Regions from separate parts of the Homo sapiens genome. Here all the other regions are linked to region 2. The links come from fine-mapping of genetic effects on gene expression. A gene starts in region 2. Each other region holds a variant in brackets. All regions are shown on one strand. Distances are from middle to middle.

What was found. PIP is the estimated chance that this variant, and not a neighbour inherited with it, causes the effect. A credible set is the group of variants that fine-mapping cannot tell apart.
Region 1: its variant is the best candidate, but not a certain one, in a credible set for the expression of RELT in whole blood (INTERVAL, PIP 0.74).
Region 3: its variant is the best candidate, but not a certain one, in a credible set for the expression of RELT in whole blood (TOPMed, PIP 0.52).
Region 4: its variant is the best candidate, but not a certain one, in a credible set for the expression of RELT in whole blood (TOPMed, PIP 0.68).

What each region holds. Positions count from the first base shown.
Region 1 is chr11:73,581,907-73,584,590 of GRCh38, reverse strand. The region is part of intron 1 of FAM168A (family with sequence similarity 168 member A); the gene reads left to right. Among named protein-coding and RNA genes, the nearest start is that of FAM168A, 15 kb to the left of the region's middle. The variant T/C (reference allele first, on the strand shown) is at 1,092.
Region 2 is chr11:73,374,758-73,377,441 of GRCh38, reverse strand. It overlaps RELT (RELT TNF receptor), which reads right to left and starts at 1,043. Exons shown (of 11, transcript NM_152222.2): 1 at 943-1,043. RefSeq lists an enhancer at 64-358 and silencers at 524-603, 694-983, 1,014-1,323.
Region 3 is chr11:73,449,063-73,451,746 of GRCh38, reverse strand. All of the region lies in intron 2 of FAM168A (family with sequence similarity 168 member A), which reads left to right. Among named protein-coding and RNA genes, the nearest start is that of RELT, 74 kb to the right of the region's middle. The variant C/T (reference allele first, on the strand shown) is at 1,384.
Region 4 is chr11:73,400,497-73,403,180 of GRCh38, reverse strand. It overlaps FAM168A (family with sequence similarity 168 member A), which reads left to right. Exons shown (of 8, transcript NM_015159.3): 8 at 1-2,684. Among named protein-coding and RNA genes, the nearest start is that of RELT, 25 kb to the right of the region's middle. The variant C/T (reference allele first, on the strand shown) is at 1,550.

The DNA.
Region 1 (2,684 bases), 210 kb before region 2:
GAGGTGGGAGAATGGCGTGAACCCGGGAGGCGATGCTTGCAGTGAGCCGAGATTGCGCCACTGCACTCCAGCCTGGGTGACGGAGCAAGACTCCGTCTCAAAAAAAAAAAAAAAAAAAAAAGTCAGTGGGCCAGCCATGGTGGCTCACACCTGTGATCCCAGCACTTCTGGAAGCCAAGGCAGGAGGATCACTTGAGACTAGGAGTTTGAGACCAGCCTGGGCAACATCTCTACAAAAAAATAAAAATAAATTAGCTGGGAGTGATGGCACATGCCTGTGGTCCCAGCTACTCGGGAGGCTGAGGTGGGAGGATCGCTTGGGCCCAGGAGGTCGAGGCTGCAGGGAGCACTGATCATGCCATTGCACTCCAACCTGGGTGACAGAGTGAGACAATGTCTCAAAAAAAAAAAAGTCAGTGAATGTAAAAAACACCCCTTTCTAAATTTTTTCTGACTAGATCAATCATCATTGAGGAGGTACAGTATTTCTCCATAATCCCCTGCCCCAGAAGCAAAGGAGTGTTTTTAAAAATATATTTCTGTGTTTACTTACATTTTGATCAGGCTGTATAATTATGAAGGGAAAAACCAACACCCTTTAAAATGAGCATGCCTGAAAGCCTGCCCTTCAACCAAGTGTCATTGTAGGGACACTGTCTCCTAGATAGGAGTTAGTGTTAAACTCTTGACTTAAAACCTTTGAGATGAGGTCCAGGTTTCCCAATATGGTATCTGAGGTAGTTCAAGATCCTCTCCCCAACTTCTTCACCATTGTCATTTATTGTCTCTCCTCCTGGCTTGTGCGTTTTACCTCCAGTACTCCTGAAGTTTGCATTGTACTATGTCTGCAGTTCTTCAGATGTGCAGTGCCTCTTTTCTCACTGTCTTTGCACGTGCTGTTCTCTTGGCCTAGATATCTCTTTGTTACTCTTAATTGGTCTACTCTGACTTAGCCTTTAAGACTCAGCCTAGGAGATAACCTTTTCCAGAAGGTTTTCCGTGATTTCCTAGGTTGGGATTGGGTACCCCATCTCTGGGTTACTCTGATTGTGGTTATCCATTTATTATTTGTTGGTCTCTTCCACTTGCAG[T/C]GGACAGGAGTTGTATCTGATCATCCTTTTATTCTCAGAGCCCATCTTGGGACCTTGTACAGAATAAGCATCAGTAAAGACATGTCAGGTGAATCCATCATTTCAAACTGGCCTATTAACAGCTGTAATTTCCCAATGAGTCAGTTACTCCATGTTGCTCTGGGCTGAGTTTTTTTTGTTTGTTTGTTTTTGTTTTTGAGACAGAGTCTTGCTCTGTCACCCAGGCTGGAGTGCAGTGGCGTGATCTCGGCTCACTGCATCCTCTGCCTCCTGGGTTCAAGTAATTCTCCTGCCTCAGCCTCCCGAGTAGCTGGGATTACAGGTATGCACCACCATGCCCAACTAATTTTTGTATTTTTAGTAAAGACGGGGTTTCACTCTTTTAGCCAGGATGGTCTTGATCTCCTGACCTCGTGATCCGCCTGCCTTGGCCTCCCAAGGTGCTGGGACTATAGGCATGAGCCATTGCACCTGGCCTGGGCTGAGTTTTAATAGAGTGTCTTCTATCATTGTTGTTGCCCCTTGCTCCCTGCCCGTTGTGTTGTCTCTACTCTACTTTAGCCCACTCTCATGTAGCTTTCCTTTACTCTTTGCCCATAGCTGGGTCAGTGGAGCTGTGTACACAGTAGACACAATGAGACTCAGAAAGAACTTGATTTATGACGGATCCCTGGAATCTCACTTGGAATGAATGCAGATCACATTGGTAAATGGAGAAGACGGGACCTTATGATTGCTTTTCTGACTCAGTCTAGAGTTCTTTTTTCTGCTTCAAAGTTTCCTCTTTATTAACCTTTGGTCAGTTTTAATTTGTAGATAATATAAAATGAATGCTATAAAACCAAATTGTATCAAATGCTTGTGTATTTGATTTTTACAACTGAAATATAAGACTTGACTTAACTATTTGATGGTAGAAAGATTGAGACTTTAAGAAATGTGGGTTTTTAATTACCCTATTAAGCCATTAGTAGTTTCTGGCAGGCAATTTTTTTTTTCCCCAGGCTGGAGTGCAATGGCACCATCTCGACTCACTGCAAGCTCCGCCTCCTGGGTTCATGCCAATCTCCTGCCTCAGCCTCCCGAGTAGCTGGGACTACAGGTGTGTGCCTCCACGCCTGGCTAATTTTTTTTGTATTTTTAGTAGAGATGGGGTTTCACTGTGTTAGCCGGGATGGTATCGATCTCCTGACCTCGTGATCCACCCACCTTGGCCTCCCAAAGTGCTGGGATTACAGGCATGAGTCACGGTGCCCGGCCTCTGGCAGGCAATTTTAATTAGGATTCCCCAAAATATTTTGCTGATTAGAGTCTTTGTAGCAAGCAAAAATAATCACTTATGCATCTATGCATTATTTTAGTCAACATGGATATCAGCCTCTATGTTAGGTTGGTTTTGATGATACACGGAGATGAGTAAGGTGTAGTTGCTGTCTTCAAGGAGCTCCAGATGCAATAGAGACAAGGTATAAACAAATAAGTTGGCTGGGTGCGGTGGCTCATGCCTGTAATCCCAGCACTTTGGGAGGCCGAGGTGGGCGGATCACAAGGTCAGGAGTTTGAGACCATCCTGGCCAACGTGGTGAAACCTCG
Region 2 (2,684 bases):
ACTCCTGAGGGGTGCCCTCGTGGGGACAGTCCTGGAGACCCTTGTCTCCTGGCTCCCCAACTTCCTCATCGCCCCACATCTGCCGGAAGGTGTCCTAGGTCCGGTCCCTCCTCCTCCTGCCTCTTACTCATCATCACCCTAGGCGCAGACACACACACACACACACACACACTGACACCACTTGACCCCACACGCACACCATGGCGCCAGCGAGCTCGGCTCGTTCTCAGTCACTTGGGCTCCTCTCCCTCTATTTCACACTCACAGTAACGGGTGGCCCTGGCCCTGCGCCGGTCACGCCCCAAGCCACGCACTTCGTGACCCCAGTGACCCCGGGTCTTTCCCTCACACAACACACGCACACACGCTGCCTGTCTCCCACACACAGAGCCCCTCTGTGTCGCCCGCTCGGCCCGGCGTCACCGCCCAGTGTCCCAGCCACACGTTCGCCCGGCCAGGCCGCCTCACGCGCCGTGTCACCCACAGTCACGGGCTGACACCATCCAGACCCCCCCTTGGCCGCCCCGCGCCGCAGCCGCGCCGAGGCGCCGCCGTCCAGCCCGCACCACAACCTGGTCTCGGTCCAAGTTTCCCGGGCCGGGGACCGCTCCGGGCCCCGCCGGCCCCTCACACCGCAAGTTCCGCTGCTTCCCCGCGCGCCCCCCGACAGCCACCACGCAGGGCCGGCCCGGAGTCGCGGCCGGAGGACCTGCAGGTCACGGGGCTCGGAGACTGGCGGTGGCCGGTGCGCGGAAGGCGCCGGGACAGGACGCGAGGCGGGAGGAGTGGGGTGGGGGGGCGCGCGGCCGGGCTGCCGCATCCGCCGAGCCCGCGAACTTCCTCAGAGACACGGGGAGGCAGGGGGCGCCACTAGGGTCCGTATCCCGCTGGCCCGGCCGCGGAGAGCAGACTCTGGATGGGCGCTCCGCGCGCCCTCCTTACCTGGCTGCGCCGCGGCAGCTCCAGCTCGGCTCCCCGTTCGACTCGGCGCCGCGGCCCGGCTCGGCGAGCGCCCGGACAGCCGCGCAGCCTGCGCGCCTTTTGAATGAATCGCCGGCTGGGCCGGGAAGGTGCGCAGACCCGCCCCCGCGCGTCACGGCCGCTCCGCCCCCGACGTCAGAGCGCGGTCTGCGCCCCGCGCCCGACTCACCCCGAGCCGCGGAGGGGCTCGCCGCTCTGCCGCTGGGCGGTGCTGCTCTACGTCGCCCTCTCTCGCGCCCCTGGGAACTGCAGGGGGCTGCGCGGGACTGGGCGGCGGTGCCCAGAGGGCCTCTTGTATCCGCCTCTTCAAGGCTCTGAACCAAGCAAGGAGTTGTGCGAAGCAAGATAAAGAGACTGGAGACTGAGATACTCCTCTGGGTCCTCTCAGCATTGCCAGTGTAACTAGAGCCACCTCTGCCCCTTTCTGGGCTTCATCTTCCTCCTGCCAGTTGGTGGCCAGGAAGAATAACCTCACTTTGCTTTGTTGACGAGGCCCAGGCCCAACCCTGGAAACCCTCACCTAGTTGGCGAAAAGGCCTGGTGAAGGTGAGTCTATAAAGGAAGCCCACACGGTGGGCTTCGGCACATCCTTCAAGGCCTAGTGAAATCCTCCAGGAGGCGTCTCCTGCCTCCACTCCCCTACTCCCCGCACCACTTCTCTGTGCCAGGGTAGTTAGTTTCCCTCCAGCAGGACAGGTGACTCAGTGCCCCCCTCCCTACTACAGCCATCCCACCCTGCCAGTTTCCAATGCCAGTCATCACAAACTCCAGGCAGTATTCACACTGTATTCCGACTCCGAATCGTGTCCCCTGGAGTTGTGCTACAGGGTGTGCCAGGACTGGAGGGAGCAGCTCAGTGGCCCGTTCCCCCTCTCAGTACTATTCAGGGGATCTCAGGCGGTCCTCCTGGGACAGTAGGGCTGATGGGAGACTGAGACACCAGGGAGGACCTAGTGCTGGGCCAGAGGCCTGGCTGGGGTCAGGATAATCACAGCCCATGACAGAGATGGAGAAAGGAAGGTAAATAAGTCAGCTGGGGATAGATGGCTGGGGGTGGGGTTCTAAACAGTCATAGAATCTGAACCCAGGGGCTAGGAGACGGAAAAGGTCAGGTCCCCAGGGTCCAGGAGATTCCAGGAGGCGAACTGGACACCGCATGGGGAGGGGAGCAGGGGATGAGTTTTCATTTCCCTGGGTCATGCTCAGGTTGTGGGGGAAGGGCATAAGGAGCTACAGGTCATTGATGTCAGGATCATGACATCAGCACCCTCATATGTCAATGGAGACCTCCAGGGCTGGGGCAGGGGTTCTTCCAGGGTCCCACATCCCAGCCTACGGAAGGCCAGAGCATCCAGAATGCCTCCACTCCTGGAAATGTTTTCTTTGTAAGGGGACCATCTACACCCCAGCTCTAGGTTCTAGAGTTCAAATGGTGGCAATTTCAGGTGTCGTCACTCAATAAACCAAATGGGGAAGGCCAGGTGTAGTGGTCACACCTGTAATCCTAGCACCTTGGGAGGCTGAGTTGGGAGGATCACTTAGCCCAGGAGTTCGAGACCAGCCTGGGCAACATGATGAAGCCCAGTCTCTACAAAAATATGTGGGAGAATCACTTGAGCCCAGGAAGTTGAGACTGCAGTGAGCCGCGATCGTGCCACTGCACTCCAGCCTAGGTGAGAGAGTGAGACCTTGTCTCAATCAAT
Region 3 (2,684 bases), 74 kb before region 2:
GTACAGCCTACTTACACACCTTGGCTATGTGGTATAGCCTAGGCTACAAATCTGTACAGCATGTTACTGCACTGAATAATGTAGGCAATTGTAACACAATGGTTGTTTGTGTATCTAAACATAGAAAAGGTACAGTAAAAATGCAGTATTATAATCTTATGGGATCACCTTCATATATGCTGTCATTATGCAGCATATGACTGTAGACTGTCTTATAATTGTTTATATCTTTAGTAATACCCATTGCTATTGCAGGCAGTCATTGTGTTCTCAGTGCTAACACAAAGTGCCTAACACAAAGTGAACTCTCAATTAATATTGGTTAGTTGAGTGAATAAAGGACTGAATGATCAAACCTCTAATAACGAAGCCTTTTCAGAGGTCCATAAATCTCTCTGGCAAATTGACCTGAGAGTTTGGAATAGGCTTTTTGTCCCGAGGGTCTTCTCTAAACAGTAATTCACATTTAGCTCTAAGCCAGTGCTTTCACACAGAAAATTACATTATTTATAGGGAACTCTGGATAGATAGACAAAGCTGCCCAGGAGCTCTTATGCCTCACCTTCTTCCCAGACAGCCTAAGAGCTTAAGGAATCAGTATCTCAACTCAACCTGTAACCCATTTAGATAGCTCCTAAGCTGCCATGAAGGGGTTCTCAGAATTATCTAGTTTATGTTTGTCTTCCCAACCCCTAATATATATCACACATGCACACACTCGTCTCCATCCTTGCACCTATTCATTCCTGGTTCTTACTATGGTAATAAGCACAGGTATGTTGTGGAAAAAGCTGGTCTAAGAGTTTTTTTCTTAGTAGCAGCTAGTAGTAGTATATGCATACTTTGGGAGATTAGAGAACCTCCACTGTAGACTTGTCCTTTCTTTCAGGGTATATTGTCTGGAACTTCTAGGAGAATTCCTCTTCTGAACTCAAAGCATCTTTTTTAAGAGACAGCTTTGCCTTGTGAAAACCCACAGGCATTTCCCTATGTTCTGAGCATTCAGGGTCTGTCTGGTCCATAAAAAGAAACCAGTTGAAACCTGTCACTATTGCTGTTTAGATTTGGGGGGAGGGGAGTGGAGAAGGGGGGTCGTTTTGTTTTTGGGAGGGAAAAAAGGCCATAAGCTAGGTGAATATCCTGATACAGTGAACCTTTTCTTACGGATGGAGAAACTTTTCCAGCATCTGGAGGTGCCCAATTGTCAGTTTCCAAAGTCTCTGTGACTAATAATTGATTTATACTTTATAGCAGTGATTTTCTAAATGTAACCCCTGGGCCTACAAACCTACTAGAAATGCTAATTCTTGGGCTTCAGCTTCAGACTTACAGAATCAGAAACCCTAGAGGTGGTTCCCAGCAAAATCGGTGTTTTTACAAGCT[C/T]TCTGGATGATTCTAATGGACCTATCTCCCATTTAGTAAATGTTCCATAGTCTTCCTCTTCTCTCCCAATTTTGTGAGCTTGTCTAGGAATCTTGCCATCATGAATGTCATAATTCCTTCAAGTTCAAAACAGCTTTAGAAGCAGGTTATGTGTCAAATGTCACACATGTGTCAGCTATGACAGGAGGGGCTGCTGGCACCTTCTCAAGACAGATTGGGTGGTCCTAAACCCTGGACACAGGGATGCAAGCCAGTTTCCAGCAGGATAGCCAACAATTTTCTTTTCCCTTGCACATTTTAGGAAAACTAAATAATTGGCCCCTAAAATTGGCTTTAAAAGGACTCATGTTGAGTAAGGTCAAAAGTGTGATTACTTGAAAATTGCTCAGCTGATGGGGAAGGTACTTGAATTTAAGTGTCTAAATCAGATTTTTGCTATTACTGCTGTCAGCAGGAGAAGATGCAGAAAAATCAGTAGTCCTTGGTCTTGTTTAAGCTACAAAACCATACTTCTTGTTACCTCCAAAGGTCTCTGTCTACCAAGGAGAAGCTTTGGCCTTCACTGTTACCACAAGTGCTGTCACAATTTGTAAGTTTATGCTGAGTTCATTGGACTCTGTTGCCTTATGCCTGCATGGCAGGAGGCCTGAAATCTTCGTGGTACCATAAGATAGGTGGGGATGGGCAAAGAGTCAAGACCTGACTCCAAACCTTCCTACCCTCTTCCCGCCTTAGTGTGGATCCCCAGCTGGGAGCTCTGAATTGAAATGCAGACAAGAGGGCTGGGCACAGTGTCCAAAGAGGGGACCTGATCCTAAGTAGTTCTGTTGTAATTTAGGTTACTAACCATCCTGAGTTTCCAGAGGAGCTTGGAGCCTTAAGAAGGTAGGCCGAGTGATTCATATTATTATAGTTATTTTCATCATTTGAGTACCCATTCCCTAGTAAATCCAGTGCCAGATTTTTTTTTTCATGTAGCTTAGTAGTTAAGAATTGTCTGTGTTTGAATCTCAGCTCCGCTGTTTTATCACTCACTATGCATCAGTTATAAATGCCAGAATATGCTACTGGAAGACTTGATTAACAGTAGCTTAGGCCAGGTGCGGTGCCTCATGCCTGTAATCCCAGCACTTTGGGAGGCTGAGGCAAGAGGATCATTTGAGCCCAGGAGTTGGAGACCAGCCTGGGCAACATAGAGAGACCCTGGCTCTCCAAAAAAAAATTTTTAAATTAGGTGGCGCACACCTGTGGTCCCAGCTACTCAGGAGGCTAAGGCAGGAGGATTGCTTGAGCCCAAGAGG
Region 4 (2,684 bases), 26 kb before region 2:
CCCTAAAATGTATATCCTCTTTCCTGAATATTTAGCAGAGACACACACACCTGTCCAGAGCGTTTTTGGTATGCAAAGTACTTTGACATTGGTTGCCAAAGTCCTCCATTTTATAGATGAAAAAACTAAGGCTCAGGAGGCTTGAGACTTGCTAAAAGGTCACACAGCTTGGAAGTGATTCTTCAAATCCTCTGCTCTTTCTGCTGCCACCTGCTGGGTCTCTTGGCAAGCATGGAGGGAGGGGCTAACTGTACTTTATAGAGCTGGGAAGCCCAGTCTCTGAGCTGAGCAGATTTGTATGAACTGCTTTGGGCCAGGACCTGTAATGAGCCCTGGGGAGGGACCCAGAGGCACATCTAACTGGCAGCACAAGGAGGATGAGAATTTGCAACTAAAGGCCTCACTTGGACAAAACACTTTGGGGTCACAATGCCCAGGACCGAAGACATGTTCAAGGACAGCACGAGGCATCTTTCTATTGGGAGACCCATGTCCTTGGTAAGCCTGCACACCTGGCTTCCTAATCCCTGAGAGCCTGCCCACTGTCCAGATCCAGTGAGTTGGTACAAAACGTACAGACTGAAGTCCCTGGGCTTGCTTTTCCCATGGGTGAGGACCAGAACCAGACTCTGAGCATCCTTACCCCTGGCCACCCGAATTGTTCCAAGTTTGAGGTACCCCGTTCCCAGAGATCTGGGGGTCCTTCTTTGGAGGGCTTGCTTTGTTCTGATGGCCTTCAGAAAGGAATCACATGAAGTATAAAAGGACAGGCCCCTTGGTCACCAAGTTTTGGCTCCTCATACAGATAGGACTCATCCAGGTTCCCAGCGAGGCACTGACTAAGCGAGGCTCAGAGCTTCCATATCAAATTCCTCAGCTTTGTTCTGTGCCCAGAGGGGGTGGGCCCCATTCTGGGCCCTGTGAACTTTGTCTTATATATCACCATCTGTATCAGAATTCCTCCTCAATTGCAGTTAAGTGAAAATACGTGGAAGTCTGCTTTTCCATCCTGTATTCTCCCACATCACTACTGGCTGTGCGGCCCCCGCTGCTTGCCAAGCTTGGGAATCCAGAGAGGGGCAGTAGTAGAGTGGGCCAGTTGGGACCCACCCGCAGAGCTGAAGAAACACGCCAGACTAACTGATGGGATTCCACACCGGAGCCTCTGAGCGCACAGGCAGGCATGCCAAGGGGGCTGCAGGGTTTGTCCTTTACTTATCTGCCCCTTTCCTAGAAAACTCCTCGTTTCTGAAATTAGGCATTATATGGTTCCAGGACCCAGCCTTCAAAATTCCTGGCAGGCCAGCTTCAACATTCCATGGCCAGCCCTGCCTAAGCCAGACTTGGGTCCCAGTCCCTCAGTCTCTCCAGTGGATATCTTCTGTGGTGCATGCTGTTGAGTCCAACCCAAAGGCCAACCGAGGCACACAGGAGTTGGGACTGGCTGCCACAAAGCTAGAAAGGGACAAAACAGCACTTGCTTCCCTATGGCCACATGGATAGTCCCTGGATATCCTTGCTGTGGTAGAGGTCCTCTACCCATTCCAGC[C/T]ACTGATAGCAGGGGGATTTTCCTTCCTAAGGAGAACAGATGTAACAGCTTTGCAAAGTACCGGCCCATAGGAATCAAATGGGTGAGATCAGCTTTGGGCCTGACCCCAGCAAGACCAGCATCTCCAGACCCCAGCCTTTCTCCTCAGGCCTAAGAGAGTCAGGGAAAGAGAGGAGACTGTCCCAGAGACCTTCTCCTCGGGTCAGCCAGATAGTCTGGATCTATGGTGTGACTCAAGCTCCTCCTTACCCAGGGGGGGTAAGGCCAGGCCTCTAGCTACTTGGAGTTGTCTGTAATAATCTTGAAAGGCCCAAGGGCCTGTCCCCATCCTGACTTAAAGGCATCTGCTTCCCTGTTTCATATCACATGACAGAGAAACCTGTTCTCATGGCATGTAACATCCCTGTGAAGAGAGCGTTGTATATGATTTTGTATTTTTTAATTCATTTTAATCTACAGGTTGGAATCTAATTTTTAAATTTTATTGGAACTCACATTTTAAAAAGAAATAAAATTTAAAATAATAATAATAATAATAATAATAATAATAAACCTTTGACCAGTGTCTTCCAAGTAGTTTGATCAAAGAATTTATAGGTGTTTTCAAAACACAGTCCGGAGTGTAAAGATTGGAAAGCCCCATGGCCTTGCCTGTGTGTATGAAGTGTAAATCTGGTTTTGTTTTGTTGTTTTGGATTCTTTTGGGTTTTTGTTTTGTTTTGAAGATCAGACAGTGATCACTCTGAAAGATTGAAGCCAAGAATTTGTAACTATGGTATTTACTGTAAGCTGTAGAACACTCAATAACTATTAAAAAAAAAAATTCCCCCCCAAAAAAAAGTCTTAGGTGACTAGACTGAGTGGTTCTTGGGGAGGGAGGCACAGAGGACTGTCCTGGGCCAGTGAGTCCCTTGGGCGTCTCCCCAAGTTGATGCTAAATTTGTTCTCAGTAGTCAAGAAAAACCTATGGTACATCTTACAGCTGATCTGACAGGGGTCTGCCCTAAGGGTCTCACAGCTGCTGGGGAGCTTTAAGTGGCAACTTCAGCACCCACCCTAAGTGTGTGATGTGGGAGCACAGTGAGGCCATTCAGAGTTGAAATCCATTGAGCCATCCGCGCAATAAAGCTGACAT